Homo sapiens: one gene and its partners. The protein of the gene in region 1 interacts with the protein of each later gene in a biochemical or structural test. Each region holds a gene or a part of one and is shown on either strand. Other genes may lie near its edges. The genes, in order: PFN1, WASL, ESR1 and ENAH.

What was found.
Region 2: the proteins of PFN1 (region 1) and WASL form a complex in vitro, tested with the Homo sapiens proteins (2 studies listed by BioGRID).
Region 3: the proteins of PFN1 (region 1) and ESR1 form a complex in vitro, tested with the Homo sapiens proteins (one study listed by BioGRID).
Region 4: the proteins of PFN1 (region 1) and ENAH form a complex in vitro, tested with the Homo sapiens proteins (one study listed by BioGRID).

Annotation. Positions count from the first base shown.
Region 1 is NC_000017.11:4,944,912-4,953,040, reverse strand, and holds PFN1 (profilin-1), read left to right. Parts: upstream 1-4,510; 5' UTR 4,511-4,646; coding exon 4,647-4,778; intron 4,779-6,220; coding exon 6,221-6,413; coding exon of another isoform or gene 6,414-6,634; exon of another isoform or gene 6,635-7,043; coding exon 7,044-7,141; 3' UTR 7,142-7,389; downstream 7,390-8,129. Other genes in the region: ENO3 (beta-enolase), read right to left, coding at 151-246, 1,127-1,213, 2,411-2,435; E3 ubiquitin-protein ligase RNF167, read right to left, coding at 8,025-8,129. UniProt on the Homo sapiens protein: Binds to actin and affects the structure of the cytoskeleton. At high concentrations, profilin prevents the polymerization of actin, whereas it enhances it at low concentrations. By binding to PIP2, it inhibits the formation of IP3 and DG.
Region 2 is NC_000007.14:123,738,652-123,746,351, reverse strand, and holds part of WASL (actin nucleation-promoting factor WASL), read left to right. Parts: intron 1-7,700. UniProt on the Homo sapiens protein: Regulates actin polymerization by stimulating the actin-nucleating activity of the Arp2/3 complex. Involved in various processes, such as mitosis and cytokinesis, via its role in the regulation of actin polymerization.
Region 3 is NC_000006.12:151,943,343-151,951,042, forward strand, and holds part of ESR1 (estrogen receptor), read left to right. Parts: intron 1-830; coding exon 831-1,166; intron 1,167-7,700.
Region 4 is NC_000001.11:225,649,901-225,657,642, reverse strand, and holds the start of ENAH (protein enabled homolog), read left to right. Parts: upstream 1-4,681; 5' UTR 4,682-4,952; coding exon 4,953-4,957; exon of another isoform or gene 4,958-5,278; coding exon of another isoform or gene 5,279-5,325; intron 5,326-7,742. UniProt on the Homo sapiens protein: Ena/VASP proteins are actin-associated proteins involved in a range of processes dependent on cytoskeleton remodeling and cell polarity such as axon guidance and lamellipodial and filopodial dynamics in migrating cells.

The DNA of each region.
Region 1 (8,129 bases):
CAGAGGATGAGTTTTGGAGCTCAATCAACTGGGCCCCTTTCTGTGGACCCCAGCTCCTCAAGAGCCTTGGGGGTTCCAGTCCTCTACCCATTGTGCACCCATGTCCTAAAGCCGCCCACACAGGCTCCTTCTGCGCTGGTGTCTCCTCACCTTTCCCCAGGTAGCGGCCTTTGTCTCCGTCTCTTAGTTCCAGAGCCTCATAGATACCCGTGGAAGCCCCACTGGGCACAGCTGCTCGGAATCGGCCTGGGACAGGAGGAATTGGAAGATCACAGGGATGGCTGGGCGCGGTGGCCCATGCCTGTAATCCCAGCACTTTGAGAGGCCTAGGCAGGTGGATCACTTGAGATCAGGAGTTCAAGACCAGCCTGGCTAACATGGCGAAACCGTCTCTGCTAAAAATACAAAAATTAGCTGAGGCCGGGCGCGGTGGCTCACGCCTGTAATCCCAGCACTTTGGGAGGCCAAGGCGGGCGGATCACGAGATCAGGAGATCGAGACAATCCTGGCTGACACCGTGAAACCCCATCTCTACTAAAAATACAAAAAATTAGCTGTAGTCCCAGCTACTCGGGAGGCTGAGGCAGGAGAATGGCGTGAACCCGGGAGGCGGAGCTTGCAGTGAGCCTAGATCGCGCCACTGCACTCCAGCCTGGGCGACAGAGTGAGACTCCATCTCAAAAAAAAAAAAAAAAAATTAGCTGGGCGTGATGGCACAGGCCTGTAATCCCAGCTACTTGGGAGGCTGAGGCACAAGAATCACTTAAACCCGGGAGGCAGAGGTTGCAGTGAGCTGAGATTGCACCACTGCACTCCAGCCCGGGCCACAGAGCGAGACTCCATCTCAAAACAAAACAAAACAAAAAAAAGGACCTCACAGGGAGTCTCTCTACCTCTCAAAGGGCTGAGGTGTCCTCTCTGAGCTCAGGGACAGGAGGCAGTGCAGAGAGAGACTCCTGCTTCTCCTAGCTTCCAGCTCTGGTTCCACGTTGGAAGAAGGGGGCTTGGGAAGAAGTCTGGGAAAGGGAACCCGAGAGAAAGGAGAGGATATGGCACAGAACTGGGGGGCAAAGGCCAAAGGGTTGGGGTCTTCGGAGGCGAGCCTATCCAATGGGCCTTGTGTTACCCTTGGCCGTGTGCAGGTCCACCTCCACCGTGGGGTTGCCCCTGGAGTCCAAGATTTCCCGGGCAAAGATTTTCTGCATGGCCATGGCTGCAGGACAGGAGGTGTGAGTGAGTGTAGACAGTTGATCTCTTAAGGAACCAGAAATCCCTTGCCCTTTAAGATTCTTCCCCACTCCAAGAAGGCAGGTGCTGGAGCTAAAAATACCCTACAAAAAGGTCACAGACCAAAGAGGCAGGCGCAGCCCCCTCCCCCACTCAGAACAGCTCTTATTCCACCCTCCCATCCTAAGAATCCAGGGGCCTCTTATCTATAGCTCCTGGGATGCCACCGCTCACCAAGCCCCCACCTCCCCCAAGCCTCCACTTAGGCCTTCTCCTTCCACCCCTCTGGTCAAGCAGTCTGTTCTCCATGGCTGGTGGCCTTCAAATCCTTTCTGGTTCTCATTTTCCTGCTCCGAAATCTCCTTGGGCCCCCAATTCCCTATCAGGTTCCAGCTCTAGCTGCCCTTTTCTATCCATCCCTGCTGCCCTCCTCACAGCCTCCTTTCCCTAGATCCTTCGGTGTTCCCAGAGTTTGTCCCATCTGCTTGCTCCAGCCGCCCCTTCCCCCAGCTTTTTCAAGCATCTCCAGTCCCAGGAGGAAAAAAAGCAGAAATGTCCCCCACTTCCTCCAAGCCAATACCATGCTCACCCTTTACTACCTCCACCCCCAGGGCTGGAAGATTCACCCGACCTGGGATGTCTTCGCTGGAGGTTTGGATGGAGCTCCGAGTCTAGGTGGCAGCTGGGACAGTGTCAGCTCACCCCCTCTCAGGCTGCGCATTTATCCCTGAGCCACTCGGTCCCCAGCCAGCCCCGCCTCTCTTTCTCTCCATCCTCCCCCCTTCACACTGGGCTGGCAGCCAAGTGCCCACTACAGCCTGAAGCAGAAGCCTCTGGCCCTGGGCACCTGCCCCCTTACCAAAGGTCAACTACTATCCCCCACTTTCTGTCTCCCAATAACAGTCCCTGTTCTAATTCCACCCTTTGGGAGGAGCAAGGGAGGGGCTACAGATGAGGGGTCTCCCCCCACCCCAGGATTACATTCCCCTTTTGCAAACGTCAAGAGGAATGAGTGACCTTTAGGAAAGGCCAGGGGTAACCTGAGCCCTGCAAGGCTGGGGAGGGGGCCTGGAAGAGGGGCTGCAAGATTGACGTCCACACATGCTCAGATCGCTGGGCGGGCCTCTGTCCTCAGTGGGGGAAAGGACGGGACCCCCCACCCCAGAAGGCGAGAGGGTCTCACCTCTTAGGGTCCTCATAACGGCCATTCTCGGCGCCGCCCCATCCTACCCTCTCCAGGCCAGCCAGCGCCGGGATGAGTTAGGGGACAGGAAACGAATTTAGACAGGCCCTTTCGGCTGGCAAGGCGCCCGACTGATAACGCTGGGACAGCACTTGTCGCCCGGCGTGGGGACTGTCGGTCAGAGCCCCTTTCCCCATCGACTGTGGGCGCTCAGCGCACGGCCCCAGCCCATCAATGAATGGGGCTGAATCAACAGTGAACAAAAATGAATGGACCGAGGACGGGTGGCCTTTTGTGAGCTTCTGCACGCCTGGGGCTCTTCCGGCGCCCCACTTGTAGCACTGCGGGGAGGTAGGTCTCTGCCCTCGGTAGAGATCTCCACTTTGCCGGCTCTGGGGCCAGTGCGGGGTCTGCCCCGAGCTCCTCTGCAGCCATACCAGCCGACCGGCGGGGGACACACGGCGCCTCGGCCCGACTCGGAGGCCCTTCCCGTCGGCGCCGGGGCAGCGCGCGCCCGGTGACTCACCCCCGCCGCCCTCTCCCCACCCCTGCTCCCCGCCCCGCCGGCCCGCGCGGCCTCCCAGCCCCCACCCCAGGCCACCTGCCCCGCCACCCGTCCAGTCTCCCCTCTCGCCCCGCCCCCTCATCTCAGGCCGCTCCTCCCGGGATTTTTCCACCCTGGGGTAGGGGTGCGGTGGGCCAGGGGTCAGGAGATGGCGGGCGGGGAGCGCCGCCACGTGCCCGGGTGCGGCCCCGCCCGAGCCCGCCAGTGACTCAGCCGCGCGGCTGTCGAGGAACACGGACTCGAGGGGCGTCGGGGACTGTGGGATTCGGCGTGGACGCCAGGGATGCGCGCCGCGCTCGGGAGGAGAGAGAAAACCAACCCCCTTTCCGCCCGGGCCGCGCTCGGTGACCCCTTGCCCCTAGCCCAGGCTCCGGAAGCCGCCCAGCCCTCGGCGGCGGGTCGGAGGAGGCGGTTTCACCGCGGCCGCCGCACGGCCGTCCCGCCCGTCCCGCCCTCCCCAGGTGGCTGTGAGCGCACATCTGACTGCGAAGAAACCCAAAGGGCCCGAAGTGGGACTTTCCCCTTCTTGAAAAAGTTGCCACTCTTGCAACTTGAGTATTCTTCCGCCTCGAAAAATAGCCCCGCCTGTTAAGCCCCGCGGGTGTCCGCGCTCTGTGACCTCTGCAGACACAGGCCAAGGGGCACGGCCGGTGATCCAGACATTGCCTGCCTGGGGCGGGCGGGGCTGGGATGTGGGGTGAGGCCCTGGGCTAGAGCCGATCCAGAGAAGGGACAATCCTCTAGACTGAGAATGGGCCCTGGTGAACCCAACCTGCACGACCCGAGAAGACGCTGGGGACAGAAGTGGCCCCGGTGGGTGCCTTCAGCTATGAGAGCGACTAGAGGATTTGGCCAAACTCTTCTTTGCTTTCTTATTACTTGAATAAGTAAAATCAAGGGTGGTGAGGCGGCAGCGCGCACGGCTTCGCCCCCGCCCCTTCCGCCAGGCGGGAGACACGTCCCCAGCCCGCCTTCCTTTCCCGCAGGGTCCACACGGGTCGGGCCGGGCGCGCTCCCGTGCAGCCGGCTCCGGCCCCGACCGCCCCATGCACTCCCGGCCCCGGCGCAGGCGCAGGCGCGGGCACACGCGCCGCCGCCCGCCGGTCCTTCCCTTCGGCGGAGGTGGGGGAAGGAGGAGTCATCCCGTTTAACCCTGGGCTCCCCGAACTCTCCTTAATTTGCTAAATTTGCAGCTTGCTAATTCCTCCTGCTTTCTCCTTCCTTCCTTCTTCTGGCTCACTCCCTGCCCCGATACCAAAGTCTGGTTTATATTCAGTGCAAATTGGAGCAAACCCTACCCTTCACCTCTCTCCCGCCACCCCCCATCCTTCTGCATTGCTTTCCATCGAACTCTGCAAATTTTGCAATAGGGGGAGGGATTTTTAAAATTGCATTTGCAAAGTTCGGTGTCTGGGCTGGCGAGTGGGGGAGGGAGGGAATGGGGAGTAGGCCCCGCCCCTACCGTCCTTTGCAAATAAAAATCTAGCGGGGCGGGGGGGGGGAGGAGCAGGAAGTGGCGGTGCGAGGGCTGCTGCACAGCGAGCGGAGCCGCGGTCCGGACGGCAGCGCGTGCCCCGAGCTCTCCGCCTCCCCCCGCCCGCCAGCCGAGGCAGCTCGAGCCCAGTCCGCGGCCCCAGCAGCAGCGCCGAGAGCAGCCCCAGTAGCAGCGCCATGGCCGGGTGGAACGCCTACATCGACAACCTCATGGCGGACGGGACCTGTCAGGACGCGGCCATCGTGGGCTACAAGGACTCGCCCTCCGTCTGGGCCGCCGTCCCCGGGAAAACGTTCGTCAACATCACGGTACTGCGAGGCCTGCGCGGTCCGGGGCACTGCTCCGGTTTGGACCCTGAGGGAGGGACTTGGGTGGGGGCGGGCGCGGTCTAGGGCGCGCAGCGAGAGGCCCTGACTGGGTGCTTGCCCTGGAAGCGGCGCGAATGGCGGCTGCACGTGAGTGGGTCCCTCAGTTGCCCGTAGGTCCTATGCCCCAGGCGGCGGCGCCCATCCCGCCCGCTACCCCGCTTTCCGCGACGGGGCGTTACATCCGGGGCACAGGGCGGGGAGGGGCGCGGCGCCCGGTGCGGCGGCCCACTTCCGCCTCTCCCAGGGCGGGGCGGGGACGCGCCTCAGTTTTTACTGGGGATTGGGATTGAGAGGGGACCCGGGGATCCTTGGACCCCCAGCTCCCCGTCCGGCTGCCAGCCCGCGTCCCTCTACCATTGTTTCTCCTGGTGCGGAAGGGAGCCCCAGGCGCGTGGTCTTGGTCCCTTGCCCACCCTCTGTGGGCTTCTGGCCCCTCCTAACTCCGTTAGAGAGGGCGAGGCCACCACACGCCCCCCCAGCTCAGCACGTTGGATTCAACATTCCTGCGAGGCCAATCCCGGAAGTCCCCTCGCCCTCCCTTCCCGCCATCCGGCGGGGCCTGGAGCAGGGGAACTTTGTGAGAAGTTCTGAGACAGCATAAGCGAAAGTATATTGGTTTACTACCGCTGCTCCCACCACCATCTCCCTGTCCACACTGCCCGGAAGTGGGGAGGGGGAGCGGAAGTTCAAAAGGGGGGGGAAGGGGGTTTCCGGGCGGGAGGGGACCGGATGTGGGGGCTTGGGGTGAAAGGGGGAGGGGGGAAAGGTTCCCGGGGTACCTAGACCCGAGAGCTGGCCTGCCGGGTCTGGCCCCTGTCCACCTTCAAAAGTTTTCCAACTTTCCCGGAAAGCCCCCAGGGGTCTGCTTCCTCATCTCAGAGCAGAGATACCTGGAGCTAAACTCTAGGTTACTTGGAGACCCAGGCGTCCGGGCCCTAACAGCTCCTGCAGAACCTTTGACCAAATAAGGGCAAAGTTGCTTCTCTTGCCTCGCCCGCCCCCCTCCCTTCCCCTCTCCGCTTCTGCTTTTCCTGAAGGAGAGTTCTGAGCATCCAAAGGCTCCTCACTTACCTCACTGACTCCCTTTATTTCCTGGGTTTACTTTCCCCATTAACACTGACATCTAAATCTCTAGAGGAGTATGTCATCCCTTCCTCCCTGGTTCCATATTCTAAGTTTCAGAATCATGATCTTTTTCTGCACTAACGTCCCACAGTCCTCAGAGTTTCTCACAGTTCATTGATGTGTACTGAGTATATAATTTATACTTAGCCCCCACGGCGGGGTGGTTCTCAGAAGTGGAAGACAGGTGGGTCTTTGGAGAACACGGTGGGAATCTTGGTGCACTGACTAACTTGATGGGCGCTTGGTTCCTCTTCCAGCCAGCTGAGGTGGGTGTCCTGGTTGGCAAAGACCGGTCAAGTTTTTACGTGAATGGGCTGACACTTGGGGGCCAGAAATGTTCGGTGATCCGGGACTCACTGCTGCAGGATGGGGAATTTAGCATGGATCTTCGTACCAAGAGCACCGGTGGGGCCCCCACCTTCAATGTCACTGTCACCAAGACTGACAAGAGTGAGTTCCTGAGTCTTACCCTTCCTTTAGCTCCAAGATCTCTAATGTACCGCCTTCTGGTAATCTTGAGGGTGCTTTTTTGTGTGATTCCCCAACATGAAGGGAGTCAGACCAGTATTGTGTTCCTTGTCTGCTGGATGCTGGAACACGGGATAGTCCCTCCATTCTGTCTCAGTTCCTCATCTTGTAATTCGAAGTTGCTGAACTGCATTACCTCTTAAATTACTTACTGCCTTGAGCTCGGATTAGAAACTGTTTTCTAGGAGTATAGGTAGATTGTTGGGGTCTTGAATCATCGAGTTCATCGTTTGAGTTCTTTTGTTAGAACCTGGAGGTGGCATGCACATCCACAGCCCTTTCTAGCCTGAACACATGAATCAACAGTCTATGAGCCTTTGACCCCTAAGTTTTTAGTCTGTTCCTCTCCAGCGTTTAAGCTTGATTTTCCTCTTTTGAAAAGCCTTATTGTTTCAGGGTGACTGACAGCCTGCCTGTGTGTGGTGGGGGGGCGGGTTGGGAGAGATGAGGTTGGGTTACAGCCCCCAGGGCTGGACAGCTGCTGAACAGCTGGCAGGGGGTGGAATTGTGACACCTGGATCCTAGCCTCCTTTCTCTTTCCTCCTCCTCCAGCGCTAGTCCTGCTGATGGGCAAAGAAGGTGTCCACGGTGGTTTGATCAACAAGAAATGTTATGAAATGGCCTCCCACCTTCGGCGTTCCCAGTACTGACCTCGTCTGTCCCTTCCCCTTCACCGCTCCCCACAGCTTTGCACCCCTTTCCTCCCCATACACACACAAACCATTTTATTTTTTGGGCCATTACCCCATACCCCTTATTGCTGCCAAAACCACATGGGCTGGGGGCCAGGGCTGGATGGACAGACACCTCCCCCTACCCATATCCCTCCCGTGTGTGGTTGGAAAACTTTTGTTTTTTGGGGTTTTTTTTTTCTGAATAAAAAAGATTCTACTAACAAGGTGCTGTGTGATTTGAGCTTGGGTGTCAGAATGGGGGATAGGCACTGTGACTTGCCTCCTTTATCGTGGCTTGGGAGCAGGGAGGTTGAGGTACTACAAGGTGCAGGAATTTGAGCTTCTGGCCAGGTGGCCCTGCCCCTCCACAGTGGCATTTCCAGGCCTAAGTCCTCAGTGTGCTGGTCAAATTGGTGGATGATGGAATAGAGCCATCTGGACCAGAGAATGGGTGCAGGCCTGCAGGCAAGGCAGGGCTAGTTGAGTCATCCTTGTGGGTGGGGCTCCCCCTTCTGAGTCATAGCAAATGCCGGCTGGGGCTGTCCCCATGACTATAGGTTAGTGTCTCTCAGCATTCCCTTGCTCCTTATGGCTAAAGGGGTGATTCCACCAAAGGGTTAAGTTCACCTGTGTGAGAATGATCTTACCCTTCCTTAGTCCACAAAGAAACAATTTTATTAGCCCAAGAAGTGAAGACCCAGTCCCTCTGCTTGCCCCAGCTCCACCCCAAAGCCCCTCAAAAGGATAGGTGTGGGTAAGGGAGAAGCTTGGGATGGAATGTCCCCTATCCCTCAGAAGACTGGAGGGAAGACGACGGTCTGTGCAAATAGGTCACCAGAGGTGTATGTGTGGGGGGTTATTAGACCAGGATAACAGGGGAAGAGGGAGGGGACAGTGGGGGATCTGTTGAAGGCCCAGGAAAAACAAGGGGAGCTGGGGCTAAGGAACCAAAGGAGGTGGGAAG
Region 2 (7,700 bases), on another chromosome or scaffold:
ATTCAAGAAATGAAACAGAAGCAGTTATAGTCGAAGCTCTGGAGGAGCTTCATTTCTTCTTTCATTCAACAAACATGTATTGAATAAATGTTGAGGTCAAAATCTGGAAGGGCTGATACTTGTCCTCAGGGAGCTTACTAGGTCTAAAAAGGGAAACGTGTAAACTGATAAGTCAGTGCTTCAGAGTGATGTGTAAGAGGCTGCTTTTCACAGTAGAAAATGCCTTGGCTTTGTAACAGCAAATGTGGGTTCAAACTGGGGGTCACTTTGGACAAGTTTCTTGAGCTTCCTATCCTAGATTTGGTTTTCTCATCTGTAAAACAAGGATACTATCTCATGGGGTAGTTGTGTGGATTAAGACTGTGTATAAATATATGGAAACTATTTTTATAAAGGTTTAGGGGATTAAAGGAGAGAATGGTGGGAGAGAGGATGATTAAAAGCTTTTTAAAATGGATAACTGATTATTTATATTTAAACAGGTACTCCCTAGGCTGATGAGAGGTATGAAACAGCTTGAAAAGTTAGGAGACCTACTAATAAGTTTGTTAGGTTTGTTAGGGAGCAAGGAGGGCTTCTGCTTGGGCTCTCAGATTTAGGTATGAATTGGAATCATTGTGGAGATTATGAGAAATGCATATGCCTAGGCCCAATTCCTAGATATTACTCAGAATCACTGGATCTGAGGTGAAGCTTGGACATGTCTATTTTTAGCAAGCTTGACAGAAAATTCTAAAGTATATCACAGTTTGAAAACCACTGCTAAAGTCCACGTTGTCTGATAGGATAATCCTTGAGCACATTGGAAATCTTAATAGATTTTTCTTCAATTTTTGGTCTATATTTTGCAAATTGAAGCTAAATTAAGTTAAACCAAATTCTTTTAGTACAGCATTTCTCTCACCGCTGAAGATACCAGTGTACATTTCACAACTAAGAAGGAGATACAGTTGGGGAAGTATTGCACTATTTAATGGGGACTCACAAGATCATATTTGACTTAGAAAATTTTCAGGGGAAAGGTGGAGGCAGTATAGAAGGTGGATTGAGGATTGTGAGGGAAAGACAAGGGAAATCAGATAGTTGATTTATAGTATTGCAGGTGAAATATGATGAGGGCCTGAATTAAGAGAGTACTTTGGGAATTCAAGAACAATTAAAGTCTCCAGCAGAAATTAGTCCCAGTTATATATAGAAGGTGAGGGAAGGGAGTTTCAATAAAGGCAGGCATTATAACCACCAGCAGAAAAAGTACACAGAAACATATTTTTATTCTCATTCGCTGCAAATATGCCTAAATGTTAATGAGACTCTGGATTGGTGATTGGCTTCATGGAGGAGGCAGATCATCAGTAAATCTTTTGTTTTACCACAGTTTCTAAAAATTCATTTTGTGGAAATTGAGATTTCATTGTAATACATAAATACATGATATGTACTTTTACATAAATAGTTCTGATGCCATTCATTAGCTGGTAGTATTATGAAGGGAGAATGAGAAGGTTATAAACAAGATTACTAGGTCTTATTTTGTAGTTAGATCTGTTGCCTTTCATGTAGTGTGATTCAGTTAATTTTATATAAAGAGTATGTGCAGTTTTGCTAAGTGAAGTTCAACATATATAGTCCTGAATAAGTGAGAAACTAAGGAATAGGAAAAAATAAAACATTAAACTACGTCTCTACAGCCATATCTGGTTTATATGGATTGGGGCTGATAATGTTATTGAGCATTATCTTTCCCTGCCATACTCACCTGGTTTGTTTTTTCAAGATTTAGTGATACTTAAGCCATTTTTATTAATCAACCTTAATCTTTATTTCCTTTAACTCCTCAGCACTTGTTTTAACTTGCTTATTTTCTTTAGTTTTTTGTTTCCTCACTATATATAATTCTTGGAGATAGACTTTATGCCTAGGTAGTCTTCTATAATTTTTGTAACTTCTGGCTCCCAGATCAGTGAATACTTATTGATTGATTGAATAATTATAATTACTCGTTTATTTTTTAGGAGCTCATTCTGCGTTTCTTATTGCTTGATTAGGTTGTTAAGCCCTTCAGTTTCTAATGCACATGGTATCTGGACTTTAGTCTTCATTTATTAAGCGACCGAAATGGTTTAGTTGTGCTGCTGAACTAATATAGGTGGTAACAGTTGTCTAACAGTAGTTTGTTTGTGTTCTAAATCAGACCTGTTGGGTAGGGATTCTTACATAGGCATACAGGGAAGGATATGCTTAGAGGGATCATTGTATTGATGATGGCCTGAGTAAGGCACTGTTGGTGGAAAGTTTAGACCGGGAATGTATTTCACCTTGAGTAGTAAGGAAAGATAAAAGTTAAAATTCACTGGATTTGGAATATACAAAGATGAGAAGATACCTTTGTCTAGTATAGAGGAAAAAGATGAGCACAAAAATGTATGTGACGCAGCGTAGCTGTAAGCACAAGAAGAGATTCAGAAAAGTCCAACAGGGTTGGGTTATGAATTTTACTTCTGGTTATTCTTAGCTCTATATATATAATACAGGGACATTTCTTAACTAGTCTCAGCCTTCATGTCTAGATTTGTAAAATGGGCTTAGTCAAGGATTTCAAAGAGTAATTCAATCATTATGGAAAATACTTAGAGTCCATGACACAAAGTATTCTGGGAGTTTGGAGGAGCATATGAAAGAAAGTTGTTATGAATACTATTCAGTGCTCAGTTTAGATTTCCTGTTACTGGCAGGGAGGATTTAGAGTAAAATTTTCAGCTCTATATTGTATTTGTTTTGACTTAGGTAAATTAACAATTTTAAAGTCAGTTAATTATAGGTGTGTAAATTAAAAGTTAAGGAGCAGCTTGAATGTATCTCTTTGGGGAGTGTCTGGGCAGCCTGAGCCTCCCTGGCTGCTAATTGAAGAGGAAGAAAGGGGTCCTGATGAAAAAGTTAGGAGTTCCTGAATTTTAGTCCATGCTCTGCTACCATACATTGTGAATATGAACAGGAATTTTTTTTTTTTTTTTTTTTGAGACAGAGTCTTGCTTTGTCGCCAAGGCGGGAGTGCAGTGGCACGATCTCGGCTCACTGCAACCTCGGCCTCCCAGGTTCAAGTTATTCTCCTCCCTCAGCCTCCCAAGTAGCTGGAACTACAGGCGTGTGCCACTACCCCTGGCTAATTTTTGTATTTTTAGTACAGACAGGGTTTCACCATGCTGGCCAGGCTGGTCTCGAACTCCTGACCTCAGGTGATCTGTCCGCTTCAACCTCCCAAAGTGCTGGGATTACAGGTGTGAGCCACTGTGCCTGGCCATTTCTCCCTTCCTGAACTTCACTTTTCTAATTTGAAAATGAAGGGTCAGACAAGATAACTCCACAGTCTTTCCAGCTTTAATGCTTAATCAGTTTAACTATTCTAGATTCCAGGGACTCTAGCAGGGAAAGAACAGGCCTAATGTTAACTCTAGCATATATGTGTTTTGCACAGCCGAGACTAATATAGCATATATCTAAGCAGAAGGTAGATAATCCTGAATTATTTCATTGAAAATTCCCATTTTTAATTCACCTTTTTCTAAGCATTGTAATTTAATAGGCATTTCACTTTTAAAACAGCAGAGTGAACAGAATAAAAAAGCATTAGTAGTAGAATTACCAACTCTTAGCTAACTTAGAATTATTATTTGTAATTATAATGTATTTTTGGGTTATTAGAAACTGCTTTTTTGGTTAAGATGGAATTATTTTTAAGAATTTCTCTTTTGTTAACCAATTCCATCTAGAATCCTAATTCTGGATGAAATTGTATTAGTGATATGATAGGTGTTACATGTTACTGCTTATTTTCCAATATTAAAAAAATCGGTTTTTAGTTTCAGTGGTAGACTTAATAGTTATAGTGAATTGACTTGGTTACTTTAGAGACTGATTCAAGATTGAGGTTACTGTGGGGATTCATTTGTGTGATTAAAATAATCTTGGTTTTCTTAAATTTTTTTGTAATGCACTGGACAACATGCTGAAATTATGGCTTATTATATTAGTGAATTTTGTATTCCTGAAACAGCATACCAAGAGACACTAGAACCTTTGACAGAACTTTTCTGAAACCCAAATGAATGCCAAAATTAGGCATGCTTTTAAGATGCAAAGGGCTGGGTTTTATCTTTTACTGTCTTTCTTGCTTATTCAACTTCTGTTCTTGCTGTGCTCTGGATATTAGAAAGCACAGCTCTTGAGGAAAAGATGTGACTGGGCCTTTTGAACAGTGTCTCTTTCACCAAGTTCTGCCAGTCACTCTTTGGCCATCTCTCTGTTGTGGACAGTTGTAGGGATTTTATTTAAAATATACTATTTTTTTAAAAAGTTATCTTTTAATGTAAAAATTGTATCTATGAGTAATATCAGATTATAAAGTCTGGAAATAAAGTCTTGATTAGAGAGCAGGTTTGATTAGGACATTCAGGATTCCTCATAACATATAGAATTGGAGCTACTTAAGCGTTGGCCAAAGTACAGAGGAGCCGGGTTCTATTTGTTTTGCTGCTGAGCAATTCCTACCATGTGTATCAGTATTCTAGTCTTCTATAGTAAGATTTTTAAAAAGTCTTTATAAAAACTGGTAAGAGCAAAACTTTCCTAAGGAAATGCATGCTTGTAGTAATCTCATGTATTTCACTTTTGTCCATATTCTATAGATTTTTTAAATAAATAATATTAATGGAAGTATAATGGTAGCCCATTCTAGTTTTGAGTAGAAAAACAGATTTTAAAAGAGCAGATAAGGGTTGAACTTTGTTATAATTTATTCTGTCTAGAAGTCATAGCTTTCCTAATAGAGTTCACTCTTACTCTAAAGGTTCTAGAAACAAAAGTTTATACATTCATAGTCACAGTAATAGGATATACATTGTTAACTATAAATATAATTCTTATAGGTCACCTAGCATCGTTGATGGATTCTTGGAAACTGTGACTTTAGGTGAAACAACACATAATGAAACCAGTTTTACCATAGGGTAATTGATATAAACAAGAGCTAAGTTTCTGTAGCATATATCACCAAACTTCTAAATAAAGACAAAAACACTTCTAATATTAATTAATGAAATAAATGTGAGCTGTAACACATTTAAGAAAGAGTAATAAAAACAAGATAATTATTTACCCAGTTACTTCACTTCAGTCTCAGGTGGCTGGAGCCTATCCTGGCAGCTCAGGGTACAAGGCAAGAACCAACCCTGGACAGGACATCATCCCATCGCAGGGTGCACTCATACCTACACCCACAACTCACTCGCACACTTGCTCATCCTGGGATAATGTAGACAGACCAGTGAACCTAACATGCACATTTTTGGGATGTGGGAGGAAATCCAAGTACCCAGAGAACCCAATAGACATGGGGAGTACCTGCAAACTCCACACAGACAGTGACCCCAGCTTGAAAATGATTTTCTTTTCTCATCAAAGTTAATAATGGGCTGGACGTGGTGGTTCACACCTTTAATCGCAGCGCTTTGGGAGGCTGAGGCAGGAAGATCACTTGAGGCCAGTAGTTTGCCACCAGCGTGGGCAACATAGACCTAATCTCTACAAGAAAAAGTAGCTGGTAGTGGTGGCCCATGTCTGTAGTCCCAGTTACTCCAGAGGCTGAGGCAGGAGGTTCACTTGAGCCCAGGAATTCAAGGATGCAGTAAGCCATGATGAGGGCATTGCACTCCAGCCTGGGCAACATAGGAAGACCTGGTCTCTTAAAAACAAAAAAAAAAGTTATGATGAAAGGACATTGAACAAAATGATGTTGAACAAAAGGATGTTATTTGAGGACCTGCTGTATTAAGTATTTAGTAATTAGGAGACATTTGGCATGCTTAACCATATTCATAAATATAGTGTAATACAAAATAAATCTTATTTATTGCATCTATGTTAGTAGTCTCAGAAGTATTCGAGAGTTATACTGATATAATAGCATATAGGAGAGTAAAACTAATTAGAAAACATTATTTTCTCATAGGAGTTAATGCACTGTAGAGGAATTGTAACCCTTTTTTTAAAGAGACCAAATAATTGACTGTAATGTTGAAGAGGTAAATACAGAAAAGCCCCTCAAGAAAATGTGATCAAATGAAAGATATATATATAAAAGATAATATATGAGATATATCTGACATATGTATGAGATATATATGTCTTATCAATCAACTCCTTTACTAATACATAAACTGATGCATAAACTAGCTAGAAACTGAAATGATTTTTATTAGTGAAACGTAGTCAAGTCTTGAGGACTTACTAAGCACATAACACCCTCCCAGTATCTTGGAATATGAGGGAGCAGTAAGGAAAATCCAGGTTTTACCCCTCAGTTATTCACTGTATAGCTGAAGAAGACAAAAATTATGCACAAAAAGATATATGCTGCAAACCAGCATATATATATATATATACACACACACACACACACACACACACACACACACACACATATATAAATGTATAAAAGATTTGAATAATAGAGAGGAGAGATAGGTATATCATTGTGGGACTTGAATATGAAAAACCTTAAATAGCCTAGAGAATTGATGTCAGAAACAAGCAGCTTATCAGGTACAGATGCTCTTCTACTTATGATGGATTATGTCCTGATAAACCTGTCGTAAGTTGAAAATGTTGTAGTCAAAAATGCATTTAACACACCTAACCCACCAAACATTATAGCTTAGCCTAGCCTTCCTTAAATGTGCTCAGAACATTTACAATAACCTACAGTTGGGCAACCTGATGTAACACAAAGCCCATTTTATAATAAAGTGTTGAATATTTTACATAATTTGTTGAATACTGTACTGAAAGTACAAAACTAAATGGTTGCATGGGTACTCAAAGTATGGTTTCTACTGAATGCATATTGCTTTCGCACCATTGTAAAGCTGAAAAATTGTAAGTGGAACCATCATTAGTTGGGGAGTGTTTATATCAGGAAATGTGTAAACAAAAGTTTGGGATAGAAAATGTGTATAGAATTTTAGGAGGCATTGAGGAGACTGGTTGGCTAGAATTGAGAATGACATTTGCTTGGGCAGATAGTGGATGGTAAGTTTGAAGAGTAAATTGAGGCTAGATTTTGGAAGACCTTTGAACTTCAAGTCTTAAGGATTGAACTTTATTCCCTAGAAAGTAAGGAAACACTAAGATTTCTTCAAGAAATTTCAAGATAGGAAGGATCTGGAGAAAGAAAATTGGAAATTATTATTCATAATAGAAATAAGGATTGAGTAATACTTTATTGTTTACTAAATTTCTTATTTATTAGTTCAGCACATCAGATCTGACTAAGAAACCTGGAATTGTGGCAGCTTCTAGAGCAAGCTTGTCCAACCTGCGGCCCAGGATGGCTTTGAAGGTGGCCCAATCCAAATTCATAAACTTTCTTAAAACAGTTTGAGATTTTGGGTTTTTTTTTTGCAGTTTTTTGTTTTTGTTTTGCTCATCACCTATCATTGGTGTTACCGTATTTTGTGTGTGACTCAAGACAATTCTTCTTCTTCCAATGTGGCCCAGGGAAACCAAAAGATTGGACACCCCTGATGTATAGCAAAAAAAAGGACTAAGTCCTTGATGTATGTGTCCATGGCAGACACCAACAATCACAGCATTTTTTCCTACTGAGTTCAGACATGGTTTCTAACTACCTGTTGTATTCCTAGAGG
Region 3 (7,700 bases), on another chromosome or scaffold:
GCACTCCAGCCTGGGTGACACAGCGAGACTCCATCTTAAAAAAAAAACAAAAAAAAACAAAAACAAAAAAAAAACCACCTTTGGGGGGAAATTATCAAATAAAACAAACTCTTTTTAGAATTTTACAACTTTTATGTTAGGAAAAAACAAATACATTTGTGAAAAGCTTAAAATCCAGTAAATGACTTGAGGGACTTGGGGCAATCCTAGGGTGATGAGGAGCAGGTTAGTAACAGTGAAGGACTTAGCACCCCAGGGGGCCAGAGGCTGTAATATACCTTATGAGCAAGTCATTCTTATTTAGTCTTGCCCATTAAGAAGTCTACTTGGACTAAATGCTTTTAAAAATGCCCTTTTAATTTACTATTAAAAGAATATTCCTAGCAGAAGTAGTCTTGGATGCTAAATTCTATTTTAAGAATAACTAAAATTAGAATTCTGTTCTTTTTATAACACCTGTTACACACACACCCCTACCTAGTGTGTCGGAATCAGTTTGTATGGGCTCACCAAAGCCTACTGTTCAATTTTCAGGAGTTTTGTAAGCCATTTGATGTCAGACAAGTGGCCTGAAGTTTGTTATGGTGGTGGTATTTACACCATGAAAATTGGCATGTTATGGTGGTAGTATTTACACCATGAAAACTGCTACAAATAGAAATCTTTTTCTTCTTCTCTTGGAGAGCCACTTGTTGAACACTTACCAGCTCACCTGTGCTTGAAAGTATTTCTTCAAATAAAATGAAAGCTGGTTAGCTTTGAAAATTTTTTGTATAAAAGTTTACACGGGAAAAAAATAAACTAATTTTTTTTTCCACCTGTGTTTTCAGGGATACGAAAAGACCGAAGAGGAGGGAGAATGTTGAAACACAAGCGCCAGAGAGATGATGGGGAGGGCAGGGGTGAAGTGGGGTCTGCTGGAGACATGAGAGCTGCCAACCTTTGGCCAAGCCCGCTCATGATCAAACGCTCTAAGAAGAACAGCCTGGCCTTGTCCCTGACGGCCGACCAGATGGTCAGTGCCTTGTTGGATGCTGAGCCCCCGATACTCTATTCCGAGTATGATCCTACCAGACCCTTCAGTGAAGCTTCGATGATGGGCTTACTGACCAACCTGGCAGACAGGGAGCTGGTTCACATGATCAACTGGGCGAAGAGGGTGCCAGGTAAGAATGCGAAGCGCAGCTTTTAAGAGTCAATAGCTTTTCAAGAACTTGTTGTGATGTCATGGGAGAAATAGTGGGGGAAAAAGAAGCAATAACATGTTATGTAATTGGTTTCAAGGTTACAGGAGATGTGTTCATTTTCAGTATCAATACACTGTAATTTTCCAGGAGATTAGGAAATAATATTTTTAAATCAGAATCTAGAAGACTGAAATTCTTAAATTGACATAATTTATTTTTAACCCATCTCATTTACCAAAAAGATTTAGGGTGGACACTACATGGTAAAACTATTTAATAGTGTATGTTCACAGTAGCAGAAACTTTTAACACTAAATGAACTACAAAAGTTTGTAATATTAATGACCTTTGTTGAAAACATCTCAATTATTAATCAAACGATTTTATCTTAAAAAGATTTTTAAGATTCGGTGTGGTGGCTCGTGCCTGTAATCCTAGCACTTTTTGGGGCTGAGGTGGGAGGATTGCTTGAGCCCAGGAGCTTGAGGCCATCCGGGGCAACGTGGCGAAACCCTGTCTCTACAACAAATTTTTAAAAATTAGCTGGATGCAGTGGCACACACCTGTGGTCCCAGTTATGGGGGAGGCCGAGGTGAGAGGATGGCTTGAGTCCAGGAGGTCAAAGCTACAGTGAACCATGTTTGTGTGGAGTGCCACTGCACTCCAGCCCAGGTGACAGAGCAAGACCGTGTCATAAAAAATAAACCACACAAAAAAAGAGAAAGATCTTTATGGATTAAAAAGATAATAATAAGTGTATTTACTGAATGCCAATTATTTATCCAACCTGGTGTATGCTTAGTGTTTTAGGAGAAAGAGAAAGGCAATGGAAAAATAAATTAAGGTATCATCCCTGAAAGAAACTTTTAGAAAGACACAGTGGCTGAAGTGATACCTTGTTCCTTCAGTTGATTCTCTCAGAACTGGTGTTCTGGTAAAATTGGACTGTTACTCCTGTTATTCAGGGAGAAGAACTCAAGTTTGTATGGCAACAAGACTAGAAAATGACTTTCTCCCTGCCCCAGTGTATTCGTTCAGGAGCTAATGTAGATAAACCGAGGCAAGAAGAAGCTAAATTTTTTTTCTGGGCTTATAGGTTAAATGAGTGATAGATTTAGTTGGAGGTTTTCTCATTTGGTTTCTTTTAATAGATGAAATTAATTGTTTCCTATGAAGCATGAAATGTTTTATATGAAACTAAAAAAATGTGGAGTTTGTACTTGCATTTCAAGGGTCACTGCTCTGTTATAGGCCAAGTGAACTTATGTCTGGCCTTAGAGAATCTTACATGTATTTGCATCTATCAGTATATAAACATGTGGGCCGTAGAATAAGGAGCCAGCAGTACCAGAACCCAGCCTTGTTAGAGGCCACCATTTTGGTGGTTGAGTGGTTATTAGTTTACATGGAAGCATGGAGAATAATAGGCAAATGTAGGTTTTCAGTGTCAGTCGAACTGGCAAACAAAAATTTCTGGTCATCTTCAGAATGAAAAGTTTTCTTGAGTACCTACATATTTTAGCATTTTCATATGAAGCAGATACATTATAAGTTAATTGTTGGAATCTAATTGTAATATGGCTGTAAGTTTTTTCTTTATATTTGTTATTGCCTTGTTCTTATATTATAGGGAAAGAGAAACAAACAAACAAGCAAAGAAACTAATGGTCATATATTTGAGAGCCAACTCTTGGTTGCTGTTCAGTTTTATTTTCCTGTAAACATATATTTTCCCTTATGAAATCTTGGGAATATTAGCTCTGGAGCACTGCTGAACTCAAGTACAGACATTTTCATGTGTATCAGTAGATTCCCATCATGACATTTTTATAATAATGTTGAAGAGCATTTTAAACAACTGGAATTAAGCTCAAATACATTACCAGTGGTTGAAGAATTCACATCAATAATCTTCTGAATTTAGGAATAAAATGGAGAAGTCAAGGAAAGGAAAATATTATACACAGGCTAGCAATAGTTAAAATACAATTATTAAAGCCAGAGCTAGACAAAATTATGGCAATGAGATGTGTAACAAAACCACTCTGTAACTTCATCATGTTCGTTTAAAAGACCTGAATGATTCCAAAATCCTTAGACCAATAAACTATGTCTTCTTACTTGATAATTAAAAAAAAGAATTATAAAGGCAAAAATGAAATTATATGTATGTGTGTTTGTGTGTGTTCCATGGGAATACAGCTGTTGTAAATCAAAGGCCTACTTGCCTGACCAAGCAGAATAAAAATAGTCATTGATTTTAAAGAGACTAAAAGTGAGGGAAGAAAAAAGTCTTCTGCAAAAGCTCTACAGATGGTTGTCAAACTTTTCAGAAAAATAGACAAAGCAACATTTTGAAAAGGATTTATATCTTTTATATATTCAAATACCATCTGTTATTTAAAAAACATAGCCCACACTGAATATCTGATATAGACAATATAACGTTTATGAGATAATAGTTTGAGAATGACAATAATAATAGTAAGTTTTAAAAGAGGAAATAAGCCGGGCACAGTGGCTCATGCCTGTAATCCCAGCACTTTGGGAGGCCGAGGCGGGTGGATCACCTGAGGTCAGGAGTTCAAGACCAGCCTGGCCAACATGACAAAACCCTGTCTCTACAAAACAGTACAAAAATTAGCCAGGCTTGGTGGCACACATCCATAGTCCCAGGTACTTGGGATGTTGAGGTGGGAGAATTGCTTGAACCTGGGAGGCAGAGACTGCAGTGAGCCGAGACCCCACAACTGCACTCCGGCCTGGGCAACAATGAGACTCTGTCTCTAAATAAATAAATAAAGAAGGAAATAGTAAATGTCATTAGTAAGAAGAATAGCAAAATTTCAGTTCTAGAAATACCCAGAATTAGCTATATGATACAAAAACCCTCATGAAACATTTGGATAATCCTCAGAATACCTATCAATATAACAAAAACTATGAATTGACTTCATTTTGAATGATGAATTTTTAACAAAAATAGTCAATACTTTGGGCTTAGTAGCTCTAGAAGTGCTTCTTTCTTCTTTCTTTTAATTAACAGAATATTGTCAGAATTTTCAAATGTTGATGATTATAAGTTGAATTTTCCTTTTCATTAACCCCTGGGGCTTATTTTTTGACTTGATATGTTTCTCTACTCAGAATTAAGATGTGAAGAGCTTTGGGATAGAATGCATCATACAAGTGTGAGAGTCAAGTTCCAATCCATAAAGTACTTCTGGTAGACCTGGATAAAGATGACCTTAAGAAATGATTTTTTTTCTCTTTGCAGTTTAAAAACAACAGTAGCAACAAGAATGATAAAACCTATGAAGCCAGCTCTGACAAAAGATGTTTTTTTTATAACACATACTATGTATCTACTTTTTGATATTTATCTATCGAGAAGACTTTTCTCCTTATTGTTTGCTCTGAAATTTGTTTATATTTAATAGGAATTTTATAGCCTTATCCCTGGGTAGAAATTCAGTTTTTTTAAAAGTAGATAATTAAATCTTAATTTACTATTATTTTACACATGGTGAAACTAGTCAATAAATGTAATATCATTGAGCTGAAGGTTAAAAAGGAAAAAATATGACTGCAAGAGTGGTTGTATTTTTGATTTCAGCATCACACTCAATTGCATCATTGAGTGGTTCATTCTTAGTTTCAGTGTTAATGAAATACATCTGAGTTTTTTTCCCCAGAAGCTTGAATTGTGTCACCAAAGTGTCATTTTGATTTATTGAAAGTTAAGCCCTTTCCAAAATTCACCATAATTTTACATGTCTCGAAAGCAATTTTATACTTCAAGTCTGTGCTATAGTTCTATATATTTTATGAAGATTTGGATAGATATCTAGCCCTGAGTTTTTTATTGCCTGTTAAATACTTATAACCCAAAGTGTAGCAGCCTCATGAACTGCTGCTGGGCACAGATCTGGGAGAGTGCACTCAGAGTGTTGGCCCAGGAAGAGGAAAAGAGGAAAAGGGGCAGTTCAGTGGCAGCTTGGCTTCCTGTGAAACATGTCACCTTAACCACTTCCTCATTCTTTTAGTGGCAAACTAGACGACCTTCTCCTTCCCCTTTCCTGCCGAGTCCCCCTCTAATCAACACTCTAGAAGGCCCCTCTTCCTCCTCAGTCCTGACTCCCTGTCATTTACTTCAGGTTGCCTCCTTGCTCAGTTTTGGCCCCAGGGGTAGGCAATCTCCTCTTTCTGGACATGTCTCCCACCAGCCCCAAGTTCAGATTTCTTGGAAGTTTCTGTGTTGTCTCGAGGATGCATGGTTGTGTGAGTTATTCCAGGGCTCAAGGCCTCTTCTGTGTCTGTATTCCCCAGGAATCCAGGAATTCACTTCTCTGCCTCTCATCCTCATCCTCATCATTAAAATGAGCAGATTTGAGCTCAGGAAGTGCTTGAATAAATGAATAAATGAACAAATGAAAGGTGATTTTTGAAAGTCTTAATTTTAAGAAGTCTCTGAGCCCTGTTACAGCTCAATTTTCCCATAAACTAGAACTGCTCTCTAAGGCTGTGACATTTCTCCTTTTTCCTCTCCTCAAAATCTACCTGCTGTTCTGATATCTCCCTGACAGCCACCATAGTGAGATTCTATTTCCATTTCCAATCTCTCTTTTGTAAGGGACAGAGAAACAGCTAGAGAAATATGGAGCCATGCGCTCTGAGGACTTTAGCAGGCTTCAACTCTATCTGCAAGTGAGTTTCACTTAGCGAATGAAATTGGAAACTTAAAGTGGGTAGGGATGAGGGTTCCCGGAGAAGGTGTAATACCTCAGTCTGGGAATTGGGAGCATCTACAAGGAACACACTCAATTCTGGGAGGTTCCTGTAGATTTCAGAGATTTAGCAGGGCTTCCCAGCACTCTGCTTCCCAACCTGTCATTGGACCAGTAAACCCTGCTCTCAAACTGTTGTGGTGTCCAGCATGCTTTGGCAAGGTAATGAAAGATAACATGACATGGACATATGGGTGACATCCTGGAGAGATGACAGAAGCCTCTGTTTAAGGACAAGATTTGCCATTTAGATTTTGCACCCACTGTATAATAAGAGCCTTAGGATTGGGCTGGAATCGCCCTAGCAGGCATGATGGCAGCCCCTCTGGACTGGCAATATGCAGCTTTTTTGCAAGTGTTCCATGTCCAAGTCACCCCACCCAGCTTTCTACTGCTCCCGTGGAAGCTCTGGTGAAACGCAAGGAAAGCAGCTGCTGTTGACTGGATTTTTCTTTCACATGAAACTTTGAAGCCTCATAGATGCTTATTGGCCTGGATGCTATTAAACCTTTAAAAATCCCTTTCTCATCTTGAGAGTATTTGAGAAACATGTCTGGGGCATTTTGCCCACCCTCCTCCAGGTTCTGTGTCAGTGAGTGATATGGTTTGCCTGTGTCCCCACCCAAATTTCATCTTGAATTCCCATCTGTTGTAGGAGAGACCCATGGCAGGTAGTTGAATCATGGGAGCAGGTCTTTCCCATGTTCCTGTGATAGTGAGTAAGTCTCAAGAGATCTGATGGTGTTAAAAAGGGGAGTTTTTCTGCACAAGCTCTTCTTCTCTTGTCTGCCACCATGTGAGATGTGCCTTCCACCTTCTGCCATGATTGTGAGGCCTCCCCAGCCACAATGGAACTGTAAGTCCATTAAGCCTCTTTCTTTTGTAAATTGCCTACTCTGGGATGTGTCTTTATGAGCAGTGTGAAAACAGACTAATACAGTGAGTCTGGGTCAGTGTGTGTTTATGTTGAACGTAGTGGACTTGTGGTGTCCCCAGGGCACCCTGTGGGGAATGTTGGCCTGTGGCTTTGCTACTTCCAGGGGGATTTGGCATGGAGAATGTGTGTTTTAAGTAATAGATAGATTATGATTGAAGTGTGTTATGGGCTGAGTTGTCTCTCCTCAAAAAGACATGTTAAAGTCCTAACCCCCAGTATCTCAGAATCTGACCTTCTTTGGAAATAGTGCCTTTATATAGGTAATCAACTTCAAGTGAAGTCATTAGCACAAGCCCTAATCCAATAAGGACTGGCATTCTAATGAAAGGGGAAATTTAGACATAGAAACAGACATGCACAGAAGAAGATGATATGAAGAGACACAGGAAGAGGACGGTCATGTGACTGGAGTGCTGGGTCTGCAAGCTGAGAAATGCCAAGGTTTACTGGCTAACATCGGAAACTAGAAGGGGCAAGAGTGGACTCTCCCCCTCAGAGAGAGTATGGCCTTGATTTCAGACTTCTAGCCTCCAGAACTGTGAGGCGTACATTTCTGTTGTTTTTGAAGCCACCTAGTTTTTGATACTTTGTATGGGAGCCCTAGGAAATTAATACAAAGTGTATTAAAAATAGAATTTTCTTCTATTGTATTTTTGAGGCAAAAGAAATAAGGAGCTATTGATTTAAGGAGGAAGGTTTGGCTCATCTAGTATAGACTTGGCTAATCATTTACTCTTGTATATTTCTCTTCTGCCTGCCCAAGTAGTTCACTGAACAGGCTTAGAAGTT
Region 4 (7,742 bases), on another chromosome or scaffold:
GCTAACAAATGTATAGGCCAATGTGATGGCTCTGTACTGTACACCTAGGGCTTGGAGCAGGCCTCCTACTGTGATATTAAGCAGGGGTGGCTGGGCGCGGTGGCCCATGCCTGTAATTCCAGCACTTTGGGAGGCCGTAGCGGGTAGATCACCTGAGGTGAGGGGTTAGAGACCTGCCTGGCCAACATGTTAAAACCTGTCTCTACTAAAAATATGAAAATTAGCTGGGTGTGGTGGCGGGCGCCTGTAATCCCAGCTACTGGGGAGGCTAAGGCAGGAGAACCCCTCGAACCTGGGAGGAGGCTGCAGTGAGCAGGGCTCTCACCACTGCACTCCAGCCTGGGCAACAGAGCAAGAGTCGGTCGAAAAAAAAAAAAAGCATGGGTAAAAGTTTATCTAAGAGAAAGTTGAGGTCTATATACTTGATGTTAACAACAGAGTATATTTCTTTTGATGAATAGTTTTTAATTAGAGAAGTCATTCACTCATTTATTCATTCACCTTTTAAATACCTAGGTGCCTACATGATGGGCCAGCCATTGGGCCTTGGGCCAGCAACCCTTATGAGAGAAGAGTTCAAATGATTTCCACTATTCAGCCAAGCCAACACAATCTCAGCTAATTTTTAGTTTTTAATTTTAATTGTTTAGAGACAGGTTCTGTCTCTCAGGCTGGAGTGCAGTGGCTGGATCATAGCTCACTGCAGCCTCGAATCCCTGGGCTCAAACAATCTTCTTGCCTCAGCCTCCTGAGCAGCTGAGACCACAGGGGCGTGCTACAATACCTGGCTCATATTTTTTTTCTTTGAGACGGAGTCTCGCTCTGTCTCCCAGGCTGGAGTACAGTGGCACAATCTCAGCTCACTGCAACCTCTGCCTCCCAGGCTGGAGTACAGTGGCACAATCTCGGCTCACTGCAACCTCTGCCTCCCGGGTTCAAGTGAATCTCCTGCCTCAGCCTCTGGAGTAGCTGGGATTACAGGCACCTGCCACCACACCTGGCTAATTTTTTGTATTTTTAATATAGATGGGGTTTCACCATGTTGGCCAGGCTGGTCTCAAACTCCTGACCTAGTGATCCGCCTGCCTCAGCCTCCCAAAGTGCTGGGATTACAGGTATGAGCCACCGTACCTGGCTACCTGGCTAATTTTTTAAAAATTTTGTAGAAATGGGGTCTTGCCATGTTGCCCAGGCTGGTCTTGAACTCCTGGGCTCAAGTGATCTGCTGCCTCAGCCTCCCAAAGTGCTGGGTTTACAAACCTGAGCCATCATGCCAGGCCCAGACCTAATTTTTAAGCAGAGTTTATGAGAAGAGAATCAGCTTTAATTTTTATTGCCTTAGTGCACTCTCATCCCATAAGAAGGTAGTTTGATATAGTCGAAGGAACAATGGACCAAGATTTGGAAATCCTGAGTTTAAGTTGTGGGCAAGTTACTTAACCTCTCTGGGTCTCACATTTCTTTTCTGAAAAATGAGTGGGCTGGACCGAAGATTCCTTCCATCTCTAAAATTCTTTTATTCTATATGGTAACACATTCCACAGCATTTCCTTTGTGACCAGAATTAGTCTGTGACTTCCTACCTCAAGTATCGCTTTGCACTCTTTGAATGTTAAACCAAATATGAACAAGAAGCAATAACATTTTGTCACAGCCAACAAATTGCCCTTCCACAGAATGACCTTTGGGGGTCAGGCCACCCATTGCAATATCTAAATCCAAAAGGCAATGAATGCTATGACCAACTTGTGAGCTGGCAGGCTGCCATCCAAAAGGATGGAAATGGTTGTAGGCAGCCAAAATTCTTGGCTGGTACATTTTTAATAAACATAGAAAATAAGAACAGCATTTTCCACTTGGATTGCTTAATTTGGTGCCCATACCATTGGAACATTTGCTGTTAGAATAAAGATGATGTGATATATCACTTATTTAGCGCAGGATGGATTAACTTTCACAAATGAGAAGTAGGTTATGGAGTCATCTGTAAGGAATTTTTATCCTTGTTTCTTGTGTCTGGCAGGAGATAGCTTGAGTCATTACAGCACTCTCTCCACCCCTTTTGGCCCTTTGTAAGAGTTTTCCCTGAAACATAAGCTCTGTCGGATTTACTGTATTGCTATGAATGGACTAAGGCAAATTGGTGTGACTTCTCTGTGGTCGAATATGTTTTATTAATACTTTTCCAAGATGGTTCAATATGTCTTAATTTTTCCAAGAAAAAACTCTCCACAGCACATGTTCAAATACTTGAGGTATGTGTTTCAAACTACAGGGAGAAACTTACGTAAGACAATGACCCTCATAGTTGGTAGCTATGATTTTTAATCATGCCTGTTGCACTAATTGATCCAGTTACTTGAGCTCTATGTTTCCCTGTCTCTACTTGCAATATGGCAACTAGAACATTTGACTGGCAAGTTTGTTTTCTCTCCAGTGGTTGGAGATCCTTGAATAAAATGCCCTCTGTAATGGTAAGCTGTAATTAGATATGTGGGTGGAAATTAGCGTTCTTCAAGTACACCATGTTTAAGGCAGAGGCATCATGCTTTCTACTACCTGAGGCCACCTTGATCCTCTGCCATAGCTCCGGGTCACTGCTTCTATAGGGCTGTTGGTCTAAGGCTGCCGGTTCCAAAAAGAAAATAACTCGGTATTGAGCTCTGAAACCAGGAATTTTATTTATTTATTTATTTATTTATTTATTTATTTATTTTTTAGATGGAGTCTCGCTCTGTCACCTAGGCTGGAGTGCAGTGGTGTGATCTGAGCTCACTACAACCTCCTCTTCCCGGGTTCAAGCGATTCTCTTGACTCAGCTGGGATTACAGGCGTGCACCACCACGCCCGGCTGTTTTTTTATTTTTTATTTTTAGTAGAGACAGGGTTTCGCCATGTTGGCCAGGCTGGTCTGGAACTCCTGACCTCAGATGATTCGCCTGCCTCAGCCTCCCGAAGTGCTGAGATGACAGGCGTGAGCCACCGCACCCGGCTGAAACCAGGAAGCTTTTTTTATGGTTAAAAATGGGCTACACAGTTCAATTATAGACAAATCAGGCATTGACCACGGATCACTATAACCTGTCTTTTCATTTGGAAGTGTACATTATCCCAACCTTCCTAACTATCTTTTGAATGGTACCTGCATCTTAAAACAAAACACCAAAACTTTTGAATGGATTCCTGGAGTCATGGTAGGTCCTCCATTTTGGATGAGATCCTTCAGCAATAGGATCCCTGTAGCAACAACCCTTTTCTATCCTCCTCACCTTTTATACAGAAAGTACATCCCTGTCTTCCGGACTAAAAGGGGGCCGTAATTCGTACAGTTAAAAATTTTATTATTGGATTTGTTTTTAGATTTAAAAAAAACCGAAAACAAAACCTTCAACAACGATCAATTCTGGCTTCCTGGATGCCCTCCTCCCCGACTTGACTTGAAATGAAATTGCCTCGCCAGTATTTTATATCTACTTTTTAAGGGAGGTGACTTCAAGACCATTGGGAATGACGAAAAATTTAAAATTATCATTAGTTCCTCTCTCTCCCCGCCCCCTGCCCGGGATTCCCTCTTTGCTAATGACGCTGGAAAGCGGCTCCACTGGCTGCGTTTCTCTTCTTCCACTCTTGCGGCAACACACTGTTCCGCGCGCGTCTCCCGGCGACTGCGTTTCCCCGAGAGTCGGCTGCGTTCGTTTGGGGATGAAGTCATCCCTATACCTAGTGTGCACATCAACTCGTTCCATCGGCGCAGCACGCTGGGATTCCTCGGGAAGAAAAGGAGCGAAGGGAACAATGATGACCATATTTTCCATTTATATGCCCCTCCTCAACTCCGCAGGAATCGCTGGGCGCAGCCGCGGCGAGGGCGGGCAGTTGGGCTGACCGGGATGCCCCCCGATTCCCTCATCCCCGTCCTGAGACCGCAACAGGGCGGGCTGAGCACTCGCCCCGCGCGAGGGCACCCGGCCGCGAGCCGACCCGGAGTCTCCTGGCCCGGCCCTGTGCCCAGTCACGCGTCCAAGCTCCCCACGCCGGTGCCTACGGGTCTGGCGCCCAGGAGGTCTCGGCGCCTCGGTCTCCGCACCGTGGCCGTGGGGGAGGCCTCGGAGCTCCCCAAGCCTCTGGGGAGCGGGAGGCGACGGGGAGGGGGCCGACGGTCAAGGACAACCACGGGCGAGGAACCCCGGCCGACAACTGGCCGGAGGTGTTGGGCGGGAGGGGGGGGTGGTGGCCCGCCCGAATCCCAGAGGGGTGCAGGGGGCGGGGTAGGGAGGCAACAAAGAGCCTCTCTCCGCCGCCGCCGCCGTCGCGCTCGCTCTCTCCCAGCCTCGCTCTCCGCAGTCCGGCGGGGGCCCGGCCGCCGGCGCGGGGGAGTGCGCCCGGCCCCCCGCCTCCCCTTTCCTCCCCTCCCCCCGCACCGCCCCCTCGCCCCCGGGGGAAGGAGGGGAGGAGGGCGGCGCCTGCGTGTTCCTCCGCCGCGCGCCCCGCCTCCTCCCGGGTTCCTCGCGGCGATCCCGACTCTCCTCCCGCGGCTGCAGCAGCTGCCGGTTGCACACGGCCTCGGCGGCGGCGCGGCGAGCGCGGGCCTGTGGAGCGGCGGCCGGGCGCGCGGCCCCGGCGGGCACCCCTCAGAGGGCGGCCGAGGAAGCTCCGGGAGGAGGAGCAGGACCACGAGGAGGTGGGAGGCGGCGGCCGCCTGGGGACCAGCTCCGCGCCTCGGCCTCTCCGCCCCCTCCCCAGCCTTTCTCTCGCCCTCTTCTCCCACACTCCCGGCCGGCGCCTCGGCTTTGTGCGAGGAGATGGTGTAGCCCCCTGGCCGCCGAAGGAGGAGCCGGACACTTGTCTCCCGTCTCCGAGCTGCTCCCCACCCCTGGAGGAGAGACCCCCCCCTCGGCTCGGCGCCTTCTGCGTCTCCCGGCTGGTGGGGAAGCCTCTGCGCCGCCGGCACCATGAGGTGAGGGGCGCGCGGGGCGGGGGCCGGGCGGGCCATTGTGCCGCGGGAGCCGCGACCCCCGTTCTCCTCGGACCCCGCCTTCCCTCTCCCGGCCCGGCGCGTCTCCCCTGGTCTCCGGTCTGTTCCTCCCCCCTCCGCCTTTTGTCCCTTCCAATTTCTCTTTCTTTCTTGGAAACCTCCCCAACCCGTGTGGTTTGGGGGTCTCGCTTCATCGTTCTCTCATTTTTCCTCAAATGCTCTTCTTTCACCCAGGATTTCCCTTCCTAAATTTAATTTGCGCCTGGCTCCCTCCCCCAAGCCTTTGCAAGCGAAACCCGGGAGATGGGGAGGGGTTCGAGAATCGAAGCGTGCGTGTTGCTGGGAAACAGGTATTTTTTCGTATATATGTAAAAATTTCATGCACTTTTGCCTCCGAACTCTCGTGTTTAATTAAAAAAGGAAGAAAAGTTTGAAAGGTCTGAAATCTCTGCGGGTAATAAAGTGCCTCTGGTAGGGGTAGGTGAAGGAGCTGTGAAAGGTGAAATTTCACGATGGTGGGGGAAGGGAAAGAATTGATTAGGTTCACGTGGTGGGGGCAGTAAAAGACTGGGATAAGTAAGTTGGTAGGGGTGTGTAAGCGGGGGCGGGGAAGGGATCTGTTTGGAAAAGCCTTTTCTCCCCTTTCTCTGTAGCAGCCTGTGTTGCATTGCAGCAGCTGCTTTTTCCCTTTGCTCTGTACTCAATAAAACAGGAGCTAAATTATTTTTGCGGCCCCGAAGAATTGAATGTACTGTCGTAAAATATTTTTTTAATTGATACGATGAAACATATGGTATGATATTTTTCTTTATTGTTTCTCAAATTGTGTAGGAGAATAAACCGTGATGTGGTGTGTCATTCATTGGAGATTTTTTTTCCAGCCTTTCCTAAACCTGTTCTGTGTCCATAACCTTCTCTTTTCGGATTGGTGCAAGACTTCGTGTGAAATGGGACTTGGTAGACTGAAGGCTGATCCATTCTGCGTTATCATCCTTAAAGGCCTTCCTTTTGGGTTAAACAATTGTGGATAAAGTAAATTACTCCATTTCTCTCTCCTGGAAGAGATAGTCTTACAGTTCATTTGGATTTGAATCTCCTTTGTGTTAAAGATTAATGGCCAACCGTTGCTAAGACCTTTATAATGTAATACAATGAGATTTGAATGATATAATCTACAAATTCCTTCGCTTTGGCAAGAAAATGTCATGTCATTGGAATTCTTTCTCAATTTCGGTAGTTTCCATTTTAAACTTTGCTTTTCATTTTTTTTTTCTATCAAGGTTAAACGTGTTTCCATTTTGCTTTTATATATATATTGTGATATATCTTTGTTGAATTTTTACTTAGGCTTACTGTGAATTTGAATTTTTTTTTCTGATTCCAAGTTACCTGTATTTATGATGGCCTTAAAGAGTGAGTTTAATGTGGTGTCTCTAGGCGACTGACCCCTTTTCCCTTGATGATTTCACACAAGTTATTTTCAAATATAAGCGATGAGTTTAAATAGTAATTATAGCATACGAACCAAAAAACACAATCTTTGTAAAATATGGCTTGAAAACTTTGAGTCGTATGTTTGAGCATGACTTCTTTTTTTTTAAATCAAGTTACTGATGTCCTTAAACTCAGGAACTATAATATACATACTGTTATATCTTGTAATATTATATGTTGTTGGTTTCTGTTTTAGAGATCTAATGCCGTAGGGATCTTGCAGACCAGAAGTTATCAGTTGTTTCAAACTTTGGGTAAACTTATCTTAACATTGAGAAATATAAAACAGGGAAAGTTTTTTTTTTTTTTTTTTTTTTTTTTTTTTAAATGCAGTCTTGCTCTCTTGCCCAGGCTGGAGTGCAGTGGCGCGGTCTCGGCTCACTGCAACCTCCGCCTCCTGGGTTCAAGCGATTCTCCTGCCTCAGCCTCCCAAGTAGCTGGGATTACAGGCGGGTATCACCACGCCCGGCTAATTTTTTGTATTTTTAGTAGAGACGGGGTTTCACCATGTTAGCCAGGATGGTCTCCAACTCCGGACCTCGTGATCCACCAGCTTCGGCCTCCCAAAGTGCTGGGATTACAGGCGTGAGCCACGGTGCCTGGCCGAAAGTGGGTTATTTTTAAATAAAAACAGGAATAGTTGTCTAATTCAAAGATTGTGAACTAAAAAAAAGTTACCGTTTTGGGTATTCAGTGAAGTTTAATCACTGTCATGTATAGATGTCAGTCTGTCACAGGTAAATTATGTCTTCACTTGAAAATTCCTTTTCTAATAAAAAGTAACTTCTGTTTTTCAAGCTCTTTTCTTGCTCTGTTCCTTATGAAGTGTAGAGAGAGAGGAACCACGCTGATGTTTTCCAGTAACGTAAATATAGAACTTGGTACACAGGTCTGAAAAGTTTATTTAAGCAGTCTACAGTAATTCTTCGTAGGCTAATTTTGAATAAGAGCAGGAAAGAGGGTCAGCTTTTCACTTTGGAAGGTACTGGATTATTTGGCAGGTGGTTAGGTAGTACTTAGATTTGCTTAGATACCTGTAAAAGTGAGATTGGTATGGGATAAAACGTTCTTGTGCTGCTTGCAAAAGTCTTTGGAATATTCTTTGGGATATTTTGGTGCTTAGGAAGTGCTTTTCAGGTTATATTAATATATGCTTAGTCTTCATGCTTTCAAGTCCTGTGGGACGTTAATGTTAGTCTTTTAAGTTGAGTCCTTTTTGGTTATATTAAGAGGTAGTTCTGATGTTTCAAAGGCCATCCAGAAATAGGAATGC